Linked DNA regions of Homo sapiens: all the other regions are linked to region 1. Evidence: fine-mapped expression QTL. A gene starts in region 1. Each other region holds a variant in brackets. All regions are shown on one strand. Distances are between the middles of the regions. Region 1 holds the start of CDH23 (cadherin related 23). Region 2 holds the start of LOC105378356 (a long non-coding RNA gene). Region 3 overlaps CDH23 (cadherin related 23). Region 4 overlaps CDH23 (cadherin related 23). Region 5 overlaps CDH23 (cadherin related 23).

Evidence for each region. PIP is the estimated chance that this variant, and not a neighbour inherited with it, causes the effect. A credible set is the group of variants that fine-mapping cannot tell apart.
Region 2: its variant is the best candidate, but not a certain one, in a credible set for the expression of CDH23 in thyroid (GTEx, PIP 0.88).
Region 3: its variant is the best candidate, but not a certain one, in a credible set for the expression of CDH23 in whole blood (TOPMed, PIP 0.57).
Region 4: its variant is the best candidate, but not a certain one, in a credible set for the expression of CDH23 in monocytes after LPS (Fairfax 2014, PIP 0.59).
Region 5: its variant is the best candidate, but not a certain one, in a credible set for the expression of CDH23 in whole blood (GTEx, PIP 0.57).

Annotation. Positions count from the first base shown.
Region 1 is chr10:71,393,610-71,399,923 of GRCh38, forward strand. It overlaps CDH23 (cadherin related 23), which reads left to right and starts at 3,311. Exons shown (of 70, transcript NM_022124.6): 1 at 3,311-3,709. RefSeq lists a silencer at 2,830-2,919 and an enhancer at 3,603-4,114.
Region 2 is chr10:71,471,829-71,475,828 of GRCh38, forward strand. The region is part of intron 3 of CDH23 (cadherin related 23); the gene reads left to right. It overlaps LOC105378356 (a long non-coding RNA gene), which reads right to left and starts at 2,226. Exons shown (of 3, transcript XR_946055.3): 1 at 2,072-2,226; 2 at 1,584-1,788; 3 at 1,050-1,461. The variant G/C (reference allele first, on the strand shown) is at 1,810.
Region 3 is chr10:71,629,502-71,633,501 of GRCh38, forward strand. All of the region lies in intron 11 of CDH23 (cadherin related 23), which reads left to right. Among named protein-coding and RNA genes, the nearest start is that of C10orf105, 88 kb to the right of the region's middle. RefSeq lists enhancers at 946-1,776, 3,671-4,000. The variant G/A (reference allele first, on the strand shown) is at 2,473.
Region 4 is chr10:71,599,278-71,603,277 of GRCh38, forward strand. All of the region lies in intron 9 of CDH23 (cadherin related 23), which reads left to right. Among named protein-coding and RNA genes, the nearest start is that of CDH23-AS1, 89 kb to the left of the region's middle. The variant A/C (reference allele first, on the strand shown) is at 2,095.
Region 5 is chr10:71,780,570-71,784,569 of GRCh38, forward strand. CDH23 (cadherin related 23) reads left to right here. Exons shown (of 70, transcript NM_022124.6): 42 at 3,718-3,851. Among named protein-coding and RNA genes, the nearest start is that of MIR7152, 8.2 kb to the right of the region's middle. The variant T/G (reference allele first, on the strand shown) is at 2,224.

The DNA of each region.
Region 1 (6,314 bases):
ACTGTCTTCAGGTGGGAGACGAGAGGGCTGGGGAAAGAAGCCGGGATGTGTCTTCACACTCCACCGTCTCTGGCAGTAGCTGTGTTTCTGTGACTCGAGCCCACACCACACAGGCCCACTGTGGTCTCACCTTCCACCGTGTGCCCTGATCCTGGTCACTCTGCTTCCTCCCTTATCCCTCCAGTCTAGGGGTGGCACACTTTCTGCTGTTGCTGCACTCTGGGTCGCCTCGCCATCCAGTTAGAATTCTCAGCCCTTCCATTCCCTGTCTGTTACACACTCACGGTGGTTCTGTGGGCTGGCTGCATCCCAACTGACACCCCAGTTCCCAGCACGGTGCTTGGCACAGTGTGTAACAGAAGGTTTGAGGGGTGGAGAACCTTGAAGAACACCTCTTCTCATGCTTTCATTTTACGAATGGGGAACACAAGGCCAAGAGAGGTCCAGTGTCCAGCCCGCTACCATCCAGCTAGAGGGTGACCTAGAACTCAGATCCCGCTCTCCGGACTCCTGGCTCCATCACACTGTGTAAAAGCATGACCACCTAAGACATGTAGGACCACGACTCCAGTTCATTTGTCCAAGAGCCTACTTGGCATCTCTGTTCTGTGACTGCACAGGCCTCTCACACAACATGTCCCAAGGGAGCTCTTGCTCAGGTCTCCATAGTGGCCTCCTCAGAGGGCCCCATCACAGGAAACAGCACACTGTCCATCTACCACCACAAGCCAGAAACCCAGAAGTCTCCTTGACCCTTTGCTCTATCTCACGTATAACCACTCCCTGTCCTCCTGGCCCTGTAGATTTTTACCTCCTGAAAGTCACTTCTCTCCACTTCTACCCACCCCCTCATTCCAGGCCTCTGTCACCAATCACCTAGACACTGCAGCAGCCTGAGGACATGTAAGCTTCACCAGGGCAAGGATTTGTTTGGCGCAAGCATGCGTGTCTGTGTGCATGTGTGTGTGCCTGTGTGTGTGTGCTTGTGTGTGTTGTTCATTGACATATCCAAAGTGTCTAAATTCACAGGGGTTAACTAACGTTTTCTGTAAAGGGCCAGGCTGTAAATATTTCTTGTTTTTGCAGGCCATGCGGTCCCTCTTGAAATTCCTTATGTCTGTAGTTGTAGTGTGAAAGGAGACACAACCAAACAGGCCATGTCTGTGTGCCACTAAAACTTTCTTTACAAAAACATGTGATGAGGCAGATTTGACCTCTGGGTAGCGGTGTGCTCACCCCTGGTCTAGAAAATTTCTTGGCACATAGTATTTGACAAATAAATACTTTTAATTGAAGCAGTCTCTTCTCATCAACTGTTGCCTCCCAATCAATTCTCTCTCTCTCTTATTTTTTTTTAGATAGAGTCTTAGTGATCCTACTGCCTCAGCCTCCCAAAATGCTGCCATTATAGGTGTCAGCCACCAAGCCCGGCCTCTGAAGCTTTCAGTCTTAGGATAAAGATCAACTCCTGATTAAGGCCAACACACCTGCACAGTCTGGCCCCCACTCCATTGTGGCTTTACAGTCACTGCCAAGGACTAGAGGGACCACTCAGTGACTCGGATCAGAGAGGGGGTGCTTAAAGCCAACAGATGGTGCAGGCTCACTCACCCTCCCAAGCTTCCCAGGAGCGTTTCCTCGTACGCTGGAGGCACGGAGCTCTCCCCACCCTTTCTGGACTTCCTGACATATGCCAGCTCCTTCCCACCTTTGCACAAGTTGATTGCGACTGCGGTCACCAAACCATTGTTCCTGGCCCAGCCGTTGCCTGCAGTGGGCACCTGGGGCCTTTGCACATGCTGTTTCTCCTGCCTAAAACTCCACTCTCTCTCCCTTGCTCATCCTTCAGCTCAGTCACCTCCTCTAGGAGGTCTTCCCTGATCCCCTCGGCCAGGCGCCATTAAAGCACTCTTCTTCCTAGCACTGATTCTGGCTGTAATTTTACCTGCTTATGTGTTTCATTGATGAATGTCTGGTTCCCCTACTAGAGAAGCTTCATGGGGCACAAAGACCAAGCCTGTTTTGTTCTCCATCCTATTCCTAGAAACTATTTCAGTTAGCTAGCACATAGCAGTGACTGTGAATGAATGAATGAATAATGAATGAGCGAATGGTAAGGAACTGGAGCTTTGGAACCAGATAGATTCTGGGTTCAATACCCGACTCCACCACAGGGGCAAGTCCCCAACCTCCTAAAGCCTGTTTCTCACTGTAAAACTGGGATAATGGCAGGGCCCACCAGAAAGACTTTATTGAAGATAGAATGAGTTGAGGCCCAGAAAGTCTCAGCCCAGAGCCTGGCTCCAGGCAGGTACTGTCAATGTACTGACTGGAACAGTGACAGCTCGGAAATCCTGTCATGTGAGAAATAGTTTTAAAAAATCAGAATGCTTAGCCCCGGGGAAGTAAAGATCAAAGGTAGGGGATAAACCTCTTCCATTACCTGCATATGGACCCTTTCTTGATCCAGCTGTCTCAGAAAGCCATAAAGTCTCTGTCCCTATAGGTGTGCAAAAAGGAGCCGGGAGACCATGACTCGGGCACTGCAGACGGAGCTCCCGCAGGGGTGAGGGCGCCTAAGTGACCTCACGGGTCTCCTCCAACCCGGGGTCCTCCATTTCTAAGCACTTGGAGGCCTCTTGAGCTCTAGTGAGGGAGGAGGCGCAGATGGGAGCGCACGAGTCGGGTGGGCAAAGGCAGCTGGTTGGAGAGAAGCGTAGGCCAAGAGGCCCCAAGGACTAGAGGGACTGCTCAGCGACTCTGGGAGCAGAGAGGGGGCGCTTAAAGCCAACAGATGGCGCGGGCTCACCTAGGCCGAGCGCCCGCTCGCCCGCCCGGGCTTCCCGGGAGCGTTACCTCGCTCTGCCTGAGGCGCGGGGCGGACGAGACGCTGGGGGCCCCATCCCCCTGCGCGCCCCTCTGCGGGACGGCTGGCGGCCTGGCGGGGCACTGCTCTGTCTCGCACCTGGGGCCTCTTCCGCGGGCTTCCTCCCTGCCCCTTTGGGGGATTCGTAGAGTTGCCACAGCAGCCGGTGCCATGACATCGGCAGAGGGCAGCTTCGCCAGCACTGAAATATTCATGCCCTGAGCGCCCGGCGGGGCTCGGCGCCGCTCCCGGGGGTCCGGGCGGGGCCGGGCGGGAGCTCGGGGGTCCTGGCGGCCTGAGGGGTGGGGGAGCGCCGAGCGCGGGCGGGCGGGCGGGGGCCGGGCGAGGCGGGAGGTGAGGGAGGGAGCTGCGGGAGGCGGGGTCTGGACGGCGGGGGCCGAGCGGGGCGGGGGCCGAGCGGGGCGGGGGAAGCAAGGGAAAGTTGATCGCGGACTTGAGCGGCGGCGGCGGCTCGGGAGAGAGGGACGCGGGCTGCAGGCGCGATGCTTGGCTAGAGGACGCGTCCGACGGCGGCCGGACGCTGAGGTGGTCGGGGCTAGTCAGCCCGGCCTGGGCATGGAGCGCGGGGTGGCAGAGCCTCTGGACGTTTGGGGCGCGCCCAGTCCGAGCCCCCGGCGCGCCTGAAGTTGCGAGCGGCGAGCGGCGAGCGGCGAGCGGCCCGCGGAGACCCAGGAGCTGCCGGCACGCCGCGGATGAGCCTTCGCGCCGGCGGGAAGACGCGGCGGTGGCCAGGGCCAGAGCAGGCGGCCCGCGGGGGCCGATCCGGCGGAGAGCAGAGCCCGAGGCGAGGCGAGGCGCGGCGCCGCTGCACACACGCACACGGTACCCGGAGCCACGCACCGCCTCTTCCCTCCTCGCTTCCCTCTCCTTCCCCTCGCCGTTCGCCCGCCGCGCGGCGGGGAAGTTGGTGGTGACCGCGGCTGCCGAACCACTTGTTCCCAGCGCGGCCATCGCCCGTGGCGGGCGCTCGCGGCATCCTTCGGTCCCAGGCCCCTGGCCCTAGCCTCGCGCCCCGCTCCGAGCTCCCCGACGCGCGGCAACTTTGATTCCTGGGAACTCGAATTCCATTCGCGTTGGCCTTGGGAGGACAGGCATCCCATCCCCCATCCCCGGTCCTGGGACCGCGAACATTTGGGGGCTTTGCTCTCGGCGCTACGGAGAGGGTCCAGGTCTGGGGTGGAGAGATTTTCGAGAGTGGAGCGCGTTGGGATCCAATCCCCTCCCCTTCTGAGCCCTGGGTCCCCATTTGGACAGTGGGGATGGGGTGGGGCGCACCCCTACTGCGGGCTGGGCAGAGGCGCTGAGGGGAACTAAAGGCACGTAGTTCTCCCCTCCCCTCATCAAGTCCCTGTGCCCGCGGGAGACCCCAGGGGACTTACACATCCTCCCAAATTCGGTCCAGCTATGGGAAGACGCGCCCCTCGAGGAGCCGGGAGCCTTTTGCGGCTCTCGCTTCGCCTTCCTGGCCCTGGAACTGGTCCGCTACGAGCGGTGCTGGCTGCCCCCAGGAGCTGGCACCCGGGAGCACTGCCCCTCATCTCCACCGTAGGTCAGCCCAGGACTCGAGCAGAGCCCGCGTGTTCCAAGGCAGTGACGGCGCCAGCCGGCGGGGACTCTGCCTGGCTTTCTCGGAGCGGGCACCTAGAGAGGCTGCCTCCGTGCTGTGAGCGGAGATCCGATGCCAGCCGCCGCCCCACTGCGACCCCAGCCCCAGCCCTAGTGCTGTCAGCGGTCCACTGGGAGGAAATTAGCCTTTCCTCGGTAGTAATACTCCCCCATCCTCCCTAGTAATTCAGAAAGCAGAGCCTTCTTTTTCTACGTCCTTTGCCCTCTCAGACCAGAGCTGGCATTGACATTGACCTCGCCTTCCAGCCCCTTGGGAAGTGCCCCAACCCTAATTTGGATTTTGAAATAAGCTAGAGAGACACAGGAGTGTGTGTGTGTGTGTGTGTGTGTGTGTGTGTGTGTGTGTGTGTGTGTTGGGTGGAGTCAGACCCTCACACAGGGAAGAATTAGGTTGTGGGGTGTGGGGTGGGGCGGGCTTTAAGAACCTAGTTGGGGCCAGTTGCATGGTGATGATGAGTCAGCCCACGATGGGGAGAGCTGGCTTGGAGTTAGTGCTTGGTTCGTGGTGCAGGGGTAGGCGCACTGCGGTCAGCACCTACAGGGGTGGGGGCACTAGATGTTACTCTGCCAAGGAGGAGCTGGGAAGGGGCCCCTTGCCTGGGGGAATAGCAAGGCTTGGTTCTGGCTGCCAGGGCTGGGGAGGGCAGGAAGGCAGAGTGTCTCGTGGTAGAGGGTGGGTGTCCCCCGTGAGTTGGGAAGGTGGCACACAGAAGCCACTGGTGTGAACCAGGAAGCTCTGCCTCGAGTGCTGGAGGACAGCAGTGAGGGGTGGGAGGCCCAGAGCTAGCATCCTGGCCCCGTCTGTGCTGGGTCCGCATATACTTCTCAGACTTGGCCTTCCTCACCTCTAAACAGCTGGGCTCCTCACGTCTGCTTACCAAAGGGCTTGATTTGAGGGTTGTGATAGCAGATGGTCCTGGTTGCCTCTGGAATAGCTCCCCCACTCAACAAGCTACCTTACCTGCAGTTTCACCATTTGAGGTTCATTTATTTGAGCCAAGTATTTTAAAGGGCACCTTCCTGAAGTGCTCATTTAAAATGCACATTCTTCTGGGAGGTGAAGGTGTAGCGGAACCTTGCTCCTCAGAGTGTGGCCTGTGGACATGCAGCGTCGGCATCACCTGGGGACTTGTTAGAAATGCAGACTCTTGGGCCCCACCCCAGACCTTCTGAATCAGAATCTGCATTTGGTAAGATCCTTGGGTGACTCATGTGCTCAGTAAAGTTTGAGCTGTGGTCCACAGTGCCTTCTCTAAGAGGCATTGCATAGTTCCTTGGTGCAGAGTGTTGTATAGGGCAGTGGATAAGAACACAGAGATGAGAATGAGATTGGAGCTTCTCTCTTTGGCCAGTTTTGCTAGGCTCGGATTAATAGTCCACCACTGGCCCCTTCGGGTTGTACCATGCTAATGCCACAAGAGTGTTTGTGTTTTAGGGTTTTTTAAATAGATTAGAATAACATCTCAGCTTTGTGTGCAGTCAAAACTGTACATGGAACTGGGTGCAGTGGTGAACTCCTATAGTCCCAGCTAATGGGGAGGCTGAGGCAACAGGATTGCTAGAGCCCAGGAGTTCAAGGCTGTAGTGTGCTAGGACCGTGCTTGTGAATAGCCACTGTACTCCAGGCTGGGCAATATAATGAGACCCTGTCTCTAAAGAAAACCAACAAAAACCCCTGCACATGGGCCAGAAAGAGGTGAGTGGAGGGGGCAGGGTTTCCGGAAGCTGGGTGTACACACTCTGCCTCTAGGACGCCTGAGACGGAGACTAGATGCTGTCCCTCAAGCAGAAGGAATTGAGC
Region 2 (4,000 bases), 77 kb after region 1:
CCATCCTTGGGATCTTTCCTCTGTACTCATGGCCTGTAATACAGCTTAGCATGTACACACATCCTACGTGGAAACCATCTGTTTATATGCTTATTTCCCCCAATAGGTGGTAATTGCTTTGAGAGTCAATGTGACTTCTAATTTGTATTTTTGTCCCCCACATCTACAGGTGTGCCTGGAATGGATCTGGTGCTCGACAGATGATAGGTGATTCAGTTTCAGGGCTGGACCTGGGCCAGTCCCGAGCTTGTTTGTCCTCAGCTCCATTCTTGGCCACCTCCAGCCCTGCTCCGAGTGGCGGGGAGCTGACCCCATGGGCTGCCTTCCTCAGGCTCCCAGATCAGCTGGCTTCTGCCTGGGTTTAGCCAACAGGAGGCCCTGGCAGGAGACTGGATGGTGGGAGGAAGGGAGGAGCCAGGGTGTTTCTTTCCTTCTCTCCTCGGGTGGTAGCTCCAAAGTTTGTGTCTCTTGGCTCCTGTTAACACCACCTCCTCCCTTGTCCCTCCCGCAAAGGGCTGGCAGTGTGGCTTTCTGCTGGGCCTCTGTCTGGGTCACCACACCGCCCTGTTTGGCCTCTTGGCTCCTCTATCACCCGTGTGACCGATTCCCCACGTTAAATCCCCTCTCTTCGCAGCTCTAACAGTGTCTCCTTCTTTCTGGTTGGACCCTCACTCAGCCCAGCTGCCAGGGACTGTCCCCTCTGCTTGTACAGTGCTGGCCCAGCATTCACTTGTCCAGGAAATGCCTGGGTGAATGGCAGGCACATGGGCCAGGCTTCAACTTGCTCTGCCCTCGCCCTTTGGCCTTGAAGGTCCTGCCAGATACTCCACAGCGAAGCGAGGCCTGAGCCCTTGTGCTGGGGTTGCCAAGGGAGGGGTCTGGAGGTGGCAGCAAGTGGTGGGAGGGCAGGTTGGCAGTGCCAAGGACTCCTGTGCTCTGTGCATGGCCCTTTATCTATTAAGCCTGCTGAGTGGTAGACTCCAGTGTGGTCCCAGGTGGTGGGAAAATAGCATCTTTAATTGTGCTCGGAATGAGATTAACTTCTTATCTGACAGTTTGACATCTTTATTGTTATTAATACCCGAATAATGCATTGTTATTTTTATAAACTCCATGGTGGCAAACATTTTTCCTTTATTTGGATTAAAAGTAGGTGTATCTGTTACTTCCCCTCATTACCCTGGGCTGGAACTCAGGGTCTCTGGCTGGGGAGCAGGGACTGGGGTGAAGGGAAGCCCATCTGCCGAGTCCTCTCCCAAGTGGCAGAGGAGCCAGGCCCCAGAGCTGGTCACTTGGCAATAGCACAGTCAAGGTCTGGGCAAAGCCTCCTGGCCTCCATTCCCGCCTGGGAAGGCAGGATGCTCCCGGAGTCTTCCCTACTGGAGAGGCGGTGTTCTGGAATACAGAGCCTGGAGACTTTGTCCTGGACTTACTCAGGGGCTGTAAATGGAAGTACAGGTTCTCCACAGCATCAAGTGGATGGAGAAGGAAGACATAAAAAGTCAATATAAATGCCATGGAGGAATACCAAGGGCCCTCTGTGCACCTGTGTGTTCATTCATAAGTATTTGCTGATCACCTACTGTGTGCCGGATATGATGTTACGTGCTGGTATACGATGGGGCTGGCATCCAGAGTGCCCCTTTTGGGGGTGAGGTTGAAGGGAAGGGCAGGATAATACCAAAGTCAGGATCATGGCTCTTGAGTCAGGCTGCCTGGGCCCAAATCCTGGTATCCAGAGGTCCCAGGGCAAGTTCCTCAACCTCTCTGAGCCTCAATTTTTCTCGTCTGTAAAATGGAGATAAAAAA[G/C]TACTTACTTCCAACATTCTTGGGATCATCAAATACATGTGAAAACATTTGCTACACTGCCTGGGGCACAGAAGAACCCAACAATATTATGGATGATGATTGTAGCTGCAGCTCTAGACGTGGGGCCAGGCCCTTGCAGTATGGCTACTAGAGGGTCAGGTGAGCAGTGGGCAGGGGTGCCCACAGCTGGCCCCTGTGAGCATCAAGCTCCCTCCCCAGGGACCTGTTGCCCACTCCCAGGCCCCCTGGCTCCTCCACTTACCCAGTCGTTAGCCCAGCTGACAAGGATGATAATGCCTCTGCCTTGGAGAGCTGGCGCCGACGTCTTTATCAAAGCCAATATTAATTTTCACTAATTAGGAGCTGCCGCTAATGAGCGTCACAGCTAATTTAGCTCATCTATAACCTAGGAATGGCACTGCTCTCATGCCAGGCTCCAGAGTCCAGGATGTTGGTGCCCGCTCCCTCCCCCACCTCCTCTCCACAATGCCAGAGGCACCAGCTGCCAGTACAGCCTGTTCCCACATGCCACCAGGGCCAGCTTGTTCTGCAGAGGGTCCAGTGGCCTTCACCTCCAGGGAGCCCTCAGGGTGGGGCCAAAGGGAAAATCCCTAAGGAAGGGGTCAGAGTATGTGCCAATCAGCTCCAGGAGTAAGTTTGAAACAGGAGGTTCAGTCTGGGAGGCTTCCTTTTTATTAGGGTACCATCCCTGCTGAGGCTTTGGCTCTGTCAGTTCTAATGCCTCTGTCGCCTCCTTCAGGAAGCCTTCAGAGACCACCTTAGCCCACAGAGACCTTTCCCCACTTAGTAGAGCTCTCACTGGTCAAACATTTGGCAGCAAACAGCGTTTGCCATGTTGCCTTCTCCTGGGAGACAGTGGAATACGGTGCTCAGAAGGTGGGCCTTGCATTCTGGCAACTAGCAGCTGTTAGACCTGTGCCTCAGTTTCCTCTCTGGTAAAATGGAGAAAATAACATATTGCTCATTAGGGGCACGGGGTGGGTGAGATGAGCCAGTGCATTGCCACGATCGTTGCTTTTAACTTTCCCATTGTGTTTCACAGGTCCACATGCATCTTCTGGTAGTCTTTCCTTCTTAAGAGAACTTACTTGTCCTTGCGCTCCTCTGTGTGCTCAGCACAGACAGGGGTTGTGCTCAGAGCAGACAGCAGGTCAAGAGCCCCGGCTAGCAGGCCGAGCCCCCAGCGCATGCCAAGTAACTGTTGAATGAATGAATAAACCTGGATTCTTACTTCTTTCTGAGCCTTAGTTTCCCCATCTGTAAAATGGGGCCATTGGCTTGGTCAATGTCTAAGACTGCTCTCATCTCTTTCATTCAAGACCCTTGATGACTTCAAGTAAGAATTTGGTGAGTGGATGGATGCTGGCTTCTGCCTCTCACTAGGAAGACGGGAATGGTGACTATTTGCCCCTCCAGGCCCTGCAGGGTGCCTTCCAGTTCTCAGATGGGGACTGAGAGTAGCTGCTGGTCAGAGCTGTGTAACCTTAGTGCAGGGCTGCTTTTCTGGGCCAGTGTGGCTCTCTTCTCACCACCAGCACAGGGAGGCATTCACCTGGCTTAGCCCTCAGACACACGACATCCGCAGGAGCTGCCCAGGAGCGTCCCTGACCTCTCCAGCCTGCTGGGACCTCCCAAGTGTGAGCATCACAGTGGGGAGGGCGGGGTAGGAAGAGAGAAAGCACTTGGGGGATGGTCTTAGACTCTCTGGTTTGGAGTTCCTGTTCCTGCTTCCCTTTCTGTTTCCTGTGTGCAGCCTGAGCTCTTGGCTCCCGAGAGGGGAGGGTCTAGGAGGGCGGTTGAGGACAGCTTTTTTGCACTTATCACCTCTGAAAAGCGACCTTCAGGCTGAGCCAACTTTGGGGGAAGAGCCTTCAGGCGTGACAGATTTGACTATAAATCTTCGGTATTAATGCCCGGTTCCCAAGGTCTGTCATCCTGTATGCCCGCGTGACAATTGAAAACAGTGTGAGGCCCATCTGTCACCCGAGGGGTCCCCGTCCCCTGCTGGCTTTGCCTGAGCAGGGATGGCAGGCTGGGAGGCAGGGGTATGAAGGAAAAGGTAGGGAGGATCTGGCCAGTGACAGGGTTGGGGATTGCAGCCAATAGCTGGAATGCAGGCCCTGAGGGGCGGAGGCTGGAAGGCAGGGAGCAGGCCCCAGTTCCATGCCTG
Region 3 (4,000 bases), 230 kb after region 1:
AGGAATGAGATGGCAAGCCGCCTAAGGGAAGCAGGCAGGCAGTGATGTGACAGGAGTGAAGTTTCGGGAGGAGGTGCAGTGGAAGACACCCAACTTCTGTACATCCGCTGCCGAATGGAGAAACTGAATGTGATGCCTTCATGCGGTGGGCCATTATTCAGCCATTGCAGGAGTGAATGAAGCACTGAGCTGCTACAGCAGGCATAGCCCTGGGAAACACAAAAGGCCACTTGGTGGATGATTTCACGTGTGGGAAACATCCAGAAGAGGCAAATCCACAGACACGGGAAGCAGATTAGTGGTTGCCAAGGGTTGGGGGAGAGAAATGGGGAGTGATGCTTAATGGGCACAAAGCTTCATTTGTGGGGGACACAAAAATGTTTTGGAGCTAGATAGAGGGAGTAGTGGTTGTACAACCCAGTGAATGTAGGAAAAATGCTGAATTGTTCGCTCTCAAATGGTTAAAATGATGACCTTTATGTTATATGAATTGTATCTCCATTTTTTAAACATTTATTTTATTATTATTTTTTATTTTGAGACAACGTATCACTCTGTCACTCAGGCTGGAGTGCAGTGGTGTAATTATAACTCACTGCAGCCTCGAACTCCTGGGCTCAAGTGATCCTCCCACCCCAGCCTCCCCAGTAGCTGGGACTACAGGCACATGCCACTGTGCCTAGCTAATTTTTAAACTTTTTGTAGAGATGGGGCCTCACTACATTGCCTAAGCTGGTCTCAAACCCCTGGCCTCATAAGATCATCCTGCCTTGGCCTCCCAAAGTGCTGGGATTACTGGCGTGAGTCATCGCACTCAACCTAAAAATTTTTTTAAAGGATGCTGTGTCTGCCAGGGGTGGGGGTGGGTGAATTGACCCTGAGGGGCAGGGGCCTTTCCTAGGAGTGACTGCCGTCATTCAGATGGGGCCTGTGGAGGGTGAGGAGCGGTCAGCCGCTGGATCTGTTTTGAAGGGAGAGTCAATGGGATTTGCCAATATGGGGAGGGGAGGAAGGGAGTTAAGAGTGACTGCACAAGGTTTTTGGCCTGAGCAGTTAGAAAAATGGAGTTCTTACTTCCTGATACGGTAAAGCAGTCGATTCAGTGAGGGCATGATGGAATCCGTAGGTTAGCTTCCAGCGTGTTACGTTTGACATGCTTGTTAGACACCCAGATGGAGACGCCAAGAAGGCACATGGGCTGTGCTGGTAGATACCTAGCGAGCAGCTCCAGGGCCTCGGTGAGGGGCTGCCTCATAGCATTTAGTAATCTCTGTGGTGTCAATGCTCCTCGATGGCCGATCTCAAGCTACTGGCGTGGCCTCAGCTGGCTCTCCCAGATTCTAGAAATCCAACCATTGGCTCTCAGGAGCCTCTAGAACCCCATCTACCACCATGTGGATCCAGGCTGGAGGCGGGAATGAAAGTGTTGCCAACACCCAGATTGTATTTAAAGCCACCGGTGGCCGGCATGGCGGCCCACACCTGTAATCCCAGCACTTTGGGAGGCCAAGGCAGGAGGATTATGTGAGCCCAGGAGTTTGAGACCAGCCTGGGCAACATACTGAGACCCCCATCTCTACAAAAAAATTCAAAATTAGCTAGGCATGGTGGCGCACACTTGTAGTCCTAGCTGCTGGGGAGCTGAGGCAGCAGGATCGCTTCAGCCCGGAGATTTAGGCTGCAGTGAACTGTGATCACACCACTGCACTCCAGCCTGGGCAACAGAGCAAGACCCCAACTCTACCTAAAACAAATGAATAAATAAAGCCACCGCTCTAGCTGGGTTCACTTGGGAAAGGGATGTGGATAGAGCAGAAAGGAGACTGGGGACTGGGCAGCCCCAGGACACCCTGATGCTTCACTTTAGGGGAGATGAGGATGACTGAGGAGCCACCCCCAAGGGAAGGGGAAGAGGAGCAAGAGGGAGCACTGATGACAGGAGGAAGATTGAGGCGAAGGAGGGAGTGGAGTGTGCAGGAACAGAGGCAGGACTCAGAAGACTTGGAGGCAGCCCTAATGTCTTTCAGTAGTGGCAAATTAACACGCATATCTTAGTCCATTTCTGTTTTTGGCATGATGCCTTGTTGTGATAGCCCTCATTAGGGAATGTCCAAACCTGCTAACATTTACAGAGCAGGTCTACCAGGATTTGTTTTTCTTTTCTTAATCCTCTTGGCCCTTTTCTCTCTCCTGCCTCCAGAGCCCTCCTCTTGCACACCAGGGGGCCACCCTTCTAAGAGGGATGCCAGAGGTCCCCTCCCTAGCTCTGCAGATCACTCAGATATGCTAAATAGTCCTACAGGGACAGACTGTGCTTAAATAAATAGATCACCAAAGGGAATTGAGAATCAGAGGAATCTCAAAGGCATTGTGCTGAAAGAAGCCACTCGCTATTGCCCTGTGCTGCATAATTCCATGACATTCTCAAAAAAGACAAACTTATAGGAACAGAGAACAGGTCAGAGGTGGCTG[G/A]GGGTGGGAGAGGAGTCCCTGTAAAGAGACGGGACAAAGAAGTGCTGGGGGCAGTGGGACTGTTCTGTATCCTGGTTGGAGGGGATAGGTAACAAGAATCTTTGCATGTGTTAAAATTCATAGAACTATATACCAAAAAAAGTCAACTTTACAACATGTTAATTAAGAAAATAAACTATAAATTATGGAATACCCCCACACCCATCCCCCAAAAAGGATGAAGTGAGAGGCACCAGCATGAGCAGCAGCACTGGTGGGCTTCTAGACTAAGATAGCCCCATCCTTCTCTCCACCGTCATTAAATCAGCAAGTGCGTAATTTGCACCCTCCTATACAGCTAGAAAGGCCAGTTAGAGGGCCTTGAACACCGCTGTGAGATTCAATCTAATTCAGCAGGCAATTGGGAGCCATAGATGGTCCTTGAGCATAAGTGATGTACTCAGAGCTATGCTTTAGGTTGATTAATCTAGACACATGGAGAATGGGGGTGGTACCAGTGGGCAATGACAGAGAGCACCGGTGGGTGGGGACTGGACGAGGGGTCAGGACTGCTTAGATGTGGGGTCTATAGGAAAGGCAGAGGTTGAGATGAGGCTGCAGTTTAGAGTTCCAGCAATGGGAGTGACAGAAGCTCAAAAGGGCAGGCTGGGGGAGGGGCTAGATGGAGAAAAAGATGGGAGCTGCCACCATCTGCCACCACCCTGCTGTGCAGCGGCCAGGTTCCATCTTTACCTCAGTATAGCTCCTCACCTGAACACCCTCCACCACCTTTGCATGCCCTCTCTTTCCCTCTGTTAATCTGTCTTTGAATCTGATCCTCTCTCCCTGTCTCTCTGTCTCTCACCTGCCTTCCCACGTGTCTTAGTCCATTTTGTGTTGCTTATAACAGAATAACTGAAACTGAGTAACTTAAGAAACAAAATTTATTTCTTACAGCTATGGAGGCTGAGAAGTCCAAGGTCAGGGGGCTGCATCTGGTGAGGGCCCTCTTGCTGGTGGGGGCTCTCTGCAGAGTCACGGGGTGGTGCAGGGCATCTCGCATGATGAGATTACTACGTGTGCTCATGCAGTAGCTCAGGTCTCTCTTCCTCTTATAAAGCCTCTAGTCCCCCTCCCAGGATAACCCATTAATCCATTAACCCATTAATCCACTAATCCATGAATGGATTAGTCCATTCATGGGTGCAGAGCCCTCACGATCCAATCACCTCTTAAAGGCCCCACCTCTCAATACTGCCACTGAGGATTAAATTTCAACGTGAATTTTGGAGGGGGACATTCAAACCCTAGCACCATCCTTCCTTCTCTGTGTCTGTCTCTATCTTCTGATTTTTTTTCTCACACTCACACATGCACAGCAGATAAACACATGCAACTCATTCATTCATGCCTTTATCCCTTCGTCCATTCACCCATAGCAACTATGCGGCCAATACACATACACGCCCCACGCCCCAAAGATAGGGAATATGTCAAGTAGGAGGAGCCCTTTGCATGCCTGAGCAGCCCTGCCTGGGGGCAGCTGAGT
Region 4 (4,000 bases), 200 kb after region 1:
ATCATCTCAGAGGCCTGTTCTGTGAGCGCTGAGCAGAAAAGGTAAAAACCTCTGATCCTGACGTTGGCTTCAAAAATGGCATCCCTGACTTGAATGTGGACTGTGTCTTAGGTGACATTGAGGAATCATTTATTTTATTTAGGGTGAAAATGGCATGTTTTGTTGCATTTTTGAAAGTCCTTATGAGAGATGCATACAGTATGTAAAGATGAACTGGGATTTCCTCTGTTAACACCGTGAAAAATTGGTAGTGTTGTGGGGGGTGATTTTAAGATAAGATTGGCAAAATTTTGATGATTGTTGCATCTGGGTGATGGTACCGAGAGCTTCATTGTGCTCTTGTCTCTACATTTGTGTTTCTTTGAAATTTTCCATAGTAAAACTTTTATGTGTGGTCCCCAAAGCTTCTCAAAGCAGACCAGAGAGCCACATCTGACCTGTGGCCTGGACAGGAGTCCAGACTTGAGCCAGACTTCTGGTCCACCCATCTGGTGCCAGTTCTGCTTCTAACGTGCTGTGTGTTGTTGACCAAGTTACTTCTCATCTCTGATTCTCACTTCTCCAGGGGATGAAGGAAAAGTTGGAACCTGCTAGGCTTTAAGCATCTTTCCATTTTCCACCTCTGACACTTGACACATCTAACTTGTATGCTCAGAGACTCCACTGGAGGGAAACTGTGGGAATAGTCCCATTTACACCTTCAATGTCTTTCCTTTTTTTTTTTTTTTTTTTTTTTTTTGGTGAGACAGAGTTTCACTCTTGTTGCCCAGGCTGGAGTGCAATGATGCGATCTCGGCTTACTGCAACCTCCGCCTCCCAGGTTCAAGCAAATCTCCTGCCTCAGCCTCCCGAGCAGCTAAAATTACAGATGTGTGCTACTACACCCGGCTAATTTTGTACTTTTAGTAGAGACAGGGTTTTACCATGTTGGCCAGGCTGGTCTCAAACTCCTGACCTCAGTTGATCCACCTGCCTTGGCCTCCCAAAGTGCTGGGATTACAGGCGTGAGCGACCGTACCCGGCCACACCTTCAATTTCTTCAGTGGGTTGGCCCACTGATGCTTTAGGAGATAAGCTTTGCAAAAAGGGCTCTGTGGTCAAATAAGTTAGAGAGACACTGCATCACAATTTCCTTGTGCTGGCAAATCACAATGCCCATGAGCACATTAAAGGCTCTGACAAGTCCAGCAGTGAAGATGTCTGTTGAGCATTTCCCAGATTTGTTTGACCGCAGAACTTTTTTTTTTTTTTTTTTTTTGAGACGGAGTGTCACTCTGTCACCAGGCTGGAGTGCAGTGGCACTATCTCAGCTCACTGCAACCTCTGCCTCCCGGGTTCAAGCGATTCTCCTGCCTCAGCCTCCTGAGTAGCTGGGACTACGGACACGCACCACCACGCCCAGCTAATTTTTTGTATTTTCAGTCGAGACAAGATTTCACCGTGTTAGCCGCAATGGTCTCGATCTCCTGACCTTGTGATCCACACGCCTCGGCCTCCCAAAGTGCTGGGATTACAGGCTTGAGCCACCATGCCCGGCAGACCACAGAGCTTTTAAAAGTTGACCTTTCCTATACCCCATGGTATCAGAGTTCCTGGGGAAACCCTGGCCTTTCTGTTTTCAGACTGGGGGCTCTGACTCTGTAGGACAAATTTGCCATCTTTTCTCATAAATATGATGACTCTGACTCATACTCACTCGAACCCAAGATGTTTGATGTTTTCCACATTGCTGAGTGGGTTTGTGCTTAACCAAATCTGTAGTTTTTTTCCTTCAGTCATGCCCTGACCAGAATCATCTGCTTTGATGTTATACTCTGAGTCACTGACCAAATGCCGGAAAACCCTCCAACATTAGGAAACTGGGCCTGGCACAATCTGCATCCTTTCTGGTGGAGCCTTCTAGAAGCATTGTTTCTAGGGAGGAGTAGGAGAAGGAATATAGGCATTGGCATTAAAGGCCATGGCTTCAAATCTCAGTGCGACCACTTACAAGCCTTATGACTTTTTCACCTCTATCCTCAGTTTACTAATCAATGAGGTCTAACATTTGTTGAGCATCTGTGATGTGCTGGACACTGTGCTGAACTAAGTAGG[A/C]TTATTACCTGCTTTTATCCTCACATCAGCCCTATAAGATAAGAATTACTCCTCCCCTTTTTATGGTTAAAGAAACGCAAGCCCAGAGAGGGTAGATAACTTGCCCACGGTCACACAGCTAGTGAGAAGTAATGCTGAGGTTCGAACCCTGGTCCTAGCCACTGCAATATCTGCCCTTTCAAAAAGATCAGATCTCCCATGGCATCTTAAAACTGAAAACGTCCTGGGAATCTCCAGATTCCCTGAACCCCATCCCTCAGGGCCCCCTTGGAGGGTAACGGGGTGCTGGGTGTGCTGGACTCCACACCCCGTCATCTGCTTCAGCCAGGGCAACTAGCTCTGATTTTGGCTGTTTTCTATACTGGAGCTCTGTGTGAAATTTTGTCTGATACAAGAATCTGCTACTGAAACAAAGACATTTGAAAAACCACTGCCATGGAAAAGCCCCCTCTTTTTTAAACAGGAGAAAACCCTGAGGCCCAGAGAAGTGAAGTGACTGGCCCAGGGTCACAGCTGTCTTCTGAGCCCCAGGCAGATCTCTGTTCTCCCTTCAGGCATTGGAGCAGGGCCTGGGCTGGGTGGGCGGCGGAGGGGGGGGGGCTCTGCAGCCCCCAGGGGACCCCTCAAGGTCGGTCATTCGGGCTGGTTCAGCCAGCTGGTGGCCAGTTTCTATGAAGATAACTGTGTCTGAGGCTGGCTCCCTGAACCTCGTCCGACCACATCTATTTCTGGGCTGCAGAGTCCTGACGGAGCACAATTTGATTCATAAATTACCCGGCTCAAGGTGTGTGTGATGGGTTCTCCTTCCACAGATTTGAAAGTCATTCACTCTGGAACTTGCAGCACTTGGGGCGGGAGGGCAGGGGCAGCCGTGGCACTGTCAGGATTAGTGTTCATGGAGGAAAGATGGCAGGGAAGATGGAGAGGGCTCGGACAATCAGTGAGAGCCGCTCTGTACCAGCTCTGTTCTCCCAGCAGCCCCAGGAGGCAGAGTCTGTCAGTGTCCCTCTTTGGCAAGTGAGGAAACTGAGGCTCAAAGGCAAAGTCACTTGCCCAAAGCCACATAGCTAGAAGTAGTGGAGCTAGGATTTGAACTCAGTACCCTCTGAGGCCCACACTGCTTCCACATGATCTCAGTGATGCAAGACAAAGGACTGAACAGATGGCAGTTGGAGGGGGAGGCTGGACCCTGGGCAGTAGGATTTGGAGGGAAGTTTCAGGGGCACCAACCCTCTTTGTCCCACAAACTTCAGGGTGCACCTGTCACTGCCATTGCACCCCACCCTGCCCCGCTCTGCCCATCTTTCCTGCTTAACGTCATCCAGTCTGTGGCACTGCACAGCTCCACCTGCCCCAGGCACCCAGTTCACCATCTTTGACGCATCCTGACATGGGTTCAGCACTTTACAGTTTGTAAAGCATCTTCAGATTCCTTATCTCACTGAACCTCTAAACAGCCCTGTGAGAGGGGAAGGTATTCTCACCTCCAAAGAGGAAACTGAATCTCAGAATGTCCACAAGCCCCAAATGATGAAACCAGTCTCTTAAATTCACATCCACTCCTTTATGAGTTCTCCAGTCGGCTTCCTCATACATGTGCCTTGTCCTTCCCCGAAGATGACCAATCTTCCCCATTAGACGGTGGGCTCCCTGGGGGTATGACCCACCCCATACCTGGTACGGACAGGCCCAGTGGTAGATAGGTGGTCTCTGGTGTCCCCACTTCCCGAGAAGCTTCATCCCTGGGCCCATCTTTCCCATGTCCCATTGCTGGATTGGAGCCAGAGGAGGGGGTGACAACACGTCCAGGATGACAGACAGCGCGTGCCCCCTCCTCCTGCCATGGGCTTTCTTCTCCTTGGGCGTCTGATCACCGTCCTCTTTGTTTTCTTAAGTGTCTCTCCCA
Region 5 (4,000 bases), 390 kb after region 1:
AAAGGGAAGCATAGGAAGAAATGAGACCAGAGAGGTAATGGGGCCAGATGTTGTCGGGCCTTGAGGGGCATCATGAGGGCGTGGCTTTTGCTCTGAGGTGGGAACCCTAAGAGGGCTTTAAGCAGAGGAGAGACATTATTTGACTTAGGTTTCAGCAGGACCACTCTGGTTCCTGTGATCAGAACAGACTGTAGGGGTGAAGGAAAAGGAGCAGGGAAGTCGGATGGGAACCTGCTGCAATCACTCAGGCTAGAATGAGGTAGCCGGGAGAGGGTGGTGGCATCACCACCAAAGGGAAAGAGGTGGCCACCTCTGGTGTAATTCAGAGGTGGAGCCAGTAGGATGTGCTAACTGATTGGCTGTGGGATGTGAGAGAAAGTCAAGGTTTTGGCGTGAGCAACCCAAAAGATGATGGCGTTGCCATTGACGGATGGAGGGCTGCAGCAGGAGGTTGTGGAGGGAAAGGAGGGTCGGTTCGAGATACCAGGTAGAGGTTGCGTATACAAGCCAAGAGTTCAGGAGAGAGGTCTGGGCTGGAGACGGGTATTTGGGAGTTGTCAGCATAGAGGTATTTAAATCCAGGAAACAAAGAGCGGTGCGAAGATTCAACAGTGAACCCAAGCCTCGCTTGCAATTAAGAGGCTGGGGGAAAAAACAACAACCTATATATGGAGGGCCCAAGTGACAGAATGAGAGCCCCTGCTGCCCAGAGCTTATGAGGGGTCACTCTGTTCGGACATGCTACCCTTTCGGATCCCAAAGTCTCCTCTCTGGCCAAGCACTAGGCCTTCCTCTTTGGAAACCAGCAGAGCAAGGGCCTTTCTCTTCTGCTGTTTTCACAAACACAGAGATTTTGTAATTTTATGGGAGTCCCTGGAGCACAGGAGGATGCCGGCACCTGGTGGAGAGGCAGGTGCTGGGTGAGCAGCTGAAGCCCCTCCCCATGAGGGGCCCACTCTGCACCCCAGCCTCAAGGCACAGAGCACACACCTGTGCTCCAGCACAGTGCAGACCTCCATGCCATGGCCTTTAAGCCACAAGCGAAACTTCCTGGGTTCAATCCACACGTGATTGGGATGAGCCTTAAGAATTTGGGGCCTTGTGGGGGAGTCCCAGCAGACTAACAGGCAGGCTCTCAAAGGAGTGAGAGACGCCTAGGAGTTTCCTAAGGCTGACCTGGGTGGGAGGCTTCCTCCCCCAAGGAAGGAAGAGTAGACATTTAGAGCCCAAAGATAACTTTGGGGTCTCTGAGCGCCACCCGCATCTCAGAAATGATCAATGAAGGCCCAGAGAGGTGAGGAAGGCCTGATGGTACTGCTGACATGGGTCACGACATCCATTTCCCACATCTCCTCCCACCTCGGGGTTCATGTTGGTCACTGAAGGGTTGACGGATGCTACAGCCAGCACCGCTGTCTGGAGAGAGCTGGTTTCACAGTGCACCACTGCATGGAGGGACGTGCCTGGGACCCCAGCTTAAAGGTCACCTTCCCAACACTGCAGCCTGAGGCTGGAAGGCTGCTTTCTATAGGGAGACAGATGCCAGATTTCTGAGCACTTACCAGCCCCACTGAGCCCTTAGGAGGAGCTGTGTGCTCAAAGAAGAGCTGGGAGACAGGCCACATGCACTTGAGCCTCTCCCGCCAGCGCCTGCCTTCTCAGCTGCCCTTTCTGGTCACACCCATTCCTTGGACCCCTTTCCTACATCCTCACCCTCCCTGAAAGCTCCCCGTTCCTTCAGAGGCCTGCCTGGGCTCCCTTTCGGGATCAGCACACACAAGGTGGGCCAGGGTTTGTCCAGCATCAGCACAACCCCAAGGTGGCATCTCTCTATTAGCCCATTTTTCAGATGAGAACATCAAGGCAAGGCTCCTTAACATGCCCAAGGGCACACAGGCATGAAGTCCAGATGCAGACCTAGATATGATTGGACGAAAGCCTAGGCTTTTAACCTCCTGTCTCCAGGAGTTGTGGAGGGATGGGGAAGTCTGGCCCCAGAGCAAGCTGCCAAGGAGAAGAATTTGCACAGGGGAACTAGGCTGGCCCAGCCCCCAGCCCCTCAGGCCTGCCTCCCTGAGCCTTCAAGGGAGTGGTGCTGGTGTCTCCTCCTGGCTTTGGAAGGAGAGCAAGAGGCCCTCTGCCTGCATATGGCCGGGGCTTGAGACAGGGCTGGGAAACACCTAGAAAGGGAATCCCCAGTTCTTTGGAGACCTTGGGGTGTCA[T/G]GCTCAGGAAATCCTGCTTTAAGCAGCTTCCACCCCCCAGGCAGGGTGAAGCCTATGGGACGGGAAGAGCCTGGGAGCGGAAGGGCTGGTGGGAAATCCCAGCTGCAGGTGGGACTGAGAGGGGCTGTTTTTGTACATCAGAGTGTTAGGAGCTGGGGACAGGGAATTGTGAGGTAGGATGTGAAGAGACAGGCAGAGAAAACTGTGGGGGCGCCTGGGCCCCTGTCCTTGCCATGCCCTGTGAGCTGTGTGCTTCCTGCTGTCTGTCCCAGAGCAAGTCAGTGCCCCATTCTGGGCCCTTCCCCCTAAGTATTCAAAGGGAAAGTGAAGGAGGTAACTAACCTTCTCTCCATTCCATTTCCTGGGGGAATGCGGAGAGGTGGCCTCTCTTCTGCAGGCTCTCCCAGTTCCCTAGCTCACATCCCCTCAACTTTCTTCCTGCCAGAGCCACAGCCCCCACCATTCTTGCCTCTCCAGCTGGGCTCACGCTTGCTCACTGGTTTCCTTCCCCCTGTCTCTTCTCTCCACCCTCCGTGTTCTCACCCCGCCCCGGTCAGCTCTGAGTGGTGCTGTCTGGAAAGAACACAAGTCCTGTGCGAGGCAATGGGTTAAGACCCAGAGTGCTGGGTTTGAATCCTGGTCTGTCATTCACTTGCTGCAGGAGTGCAGACAAGTGGTAACCCTCCCCTGGGCTCCCAGTTCATTCTCCAAAGGACACAAGGGACTGGACGGTCTCTGGGCTGCCTTCCAGGTCAGCATCTGAGAATCTGAGGTTCTTGCTCTGGACTGTCAGACATCGGGCCCTGCAGCCCAGCCAAGAAAAGGATTCTGGGGCCACAGGGCCAGCGGGGCTCTTCAGAAACATCAAGGAAAGGAAATCAGGGTCACCACAGGTGTAGGGAACCCACTCTGCTTTCCAACTATAGCTCAATATGGGGACTAAATAGAGGGCACTGGGGGCTTCCCTGCCCCTCATCCGTCCCCTTCTGCCTGCCCGGTGCCTGCGCATTCACCATTAGCAAAGCATTGCTTTGTGGTCAGCTCTGCCCTTCCCAATATCCTTTTTTACAAGCCATGGCATGTGGGATGGATCGTACATTGCGAAGCACCTGATGCCTTCATTGATCAAGAGTGCTTAGACAGTGGGTGCTAGTGTAGCAAGAAGCCCCCACTTTTTCAACATAGCCATCTTACCCAGGTCAGTCTCTGGCCTGCCTGTGGCCCAGGGAAGGAAGCTGCTTGGTCTGGCACATGAGGGCATGAGTGGCCCGTGTCCGCCTGCACCCGTGGTGGTGATCCGCTACCACCCACCTGCACATCCCAGCCCTTGCAGATCTCATGAGGATCTGAAGCTGGGGTCACTGGAGGACCCGGGCCCCAGCTGTCCCCCACCTGTGACGAGTGAGGCTTGCTAGAGGAAGCAGAAGGAGTCCTGGGGTCTCCACAGTTCCTGCCAATGCCCGACTAACTTGGGCCTCTCCTGGTGACACCCAGGGGAGTTTGTGATCTCTCCTGTGGAGGGGGTGCTAAGGGTCCGGAAGGACGTGGAGCTGGACCGGGAGACCATCGCCTTCTACAACCTGACCATCTGTGCCCGTGACCGGGGGATGCCCCCACTCAGCTCCACAGTGAGTCTGGGGGCCCCACCCGCTGGCTTCACCTCGCTGCCCCTGTACTTGCCACAGAGATTCTTGTAAACATTGTTACCCTTGTGCCAAGAGAGGCCACAGGCTGCCCTGGAGCCAGGCCAGGCCTGCCCCTGGGGCCCTTAATAGAC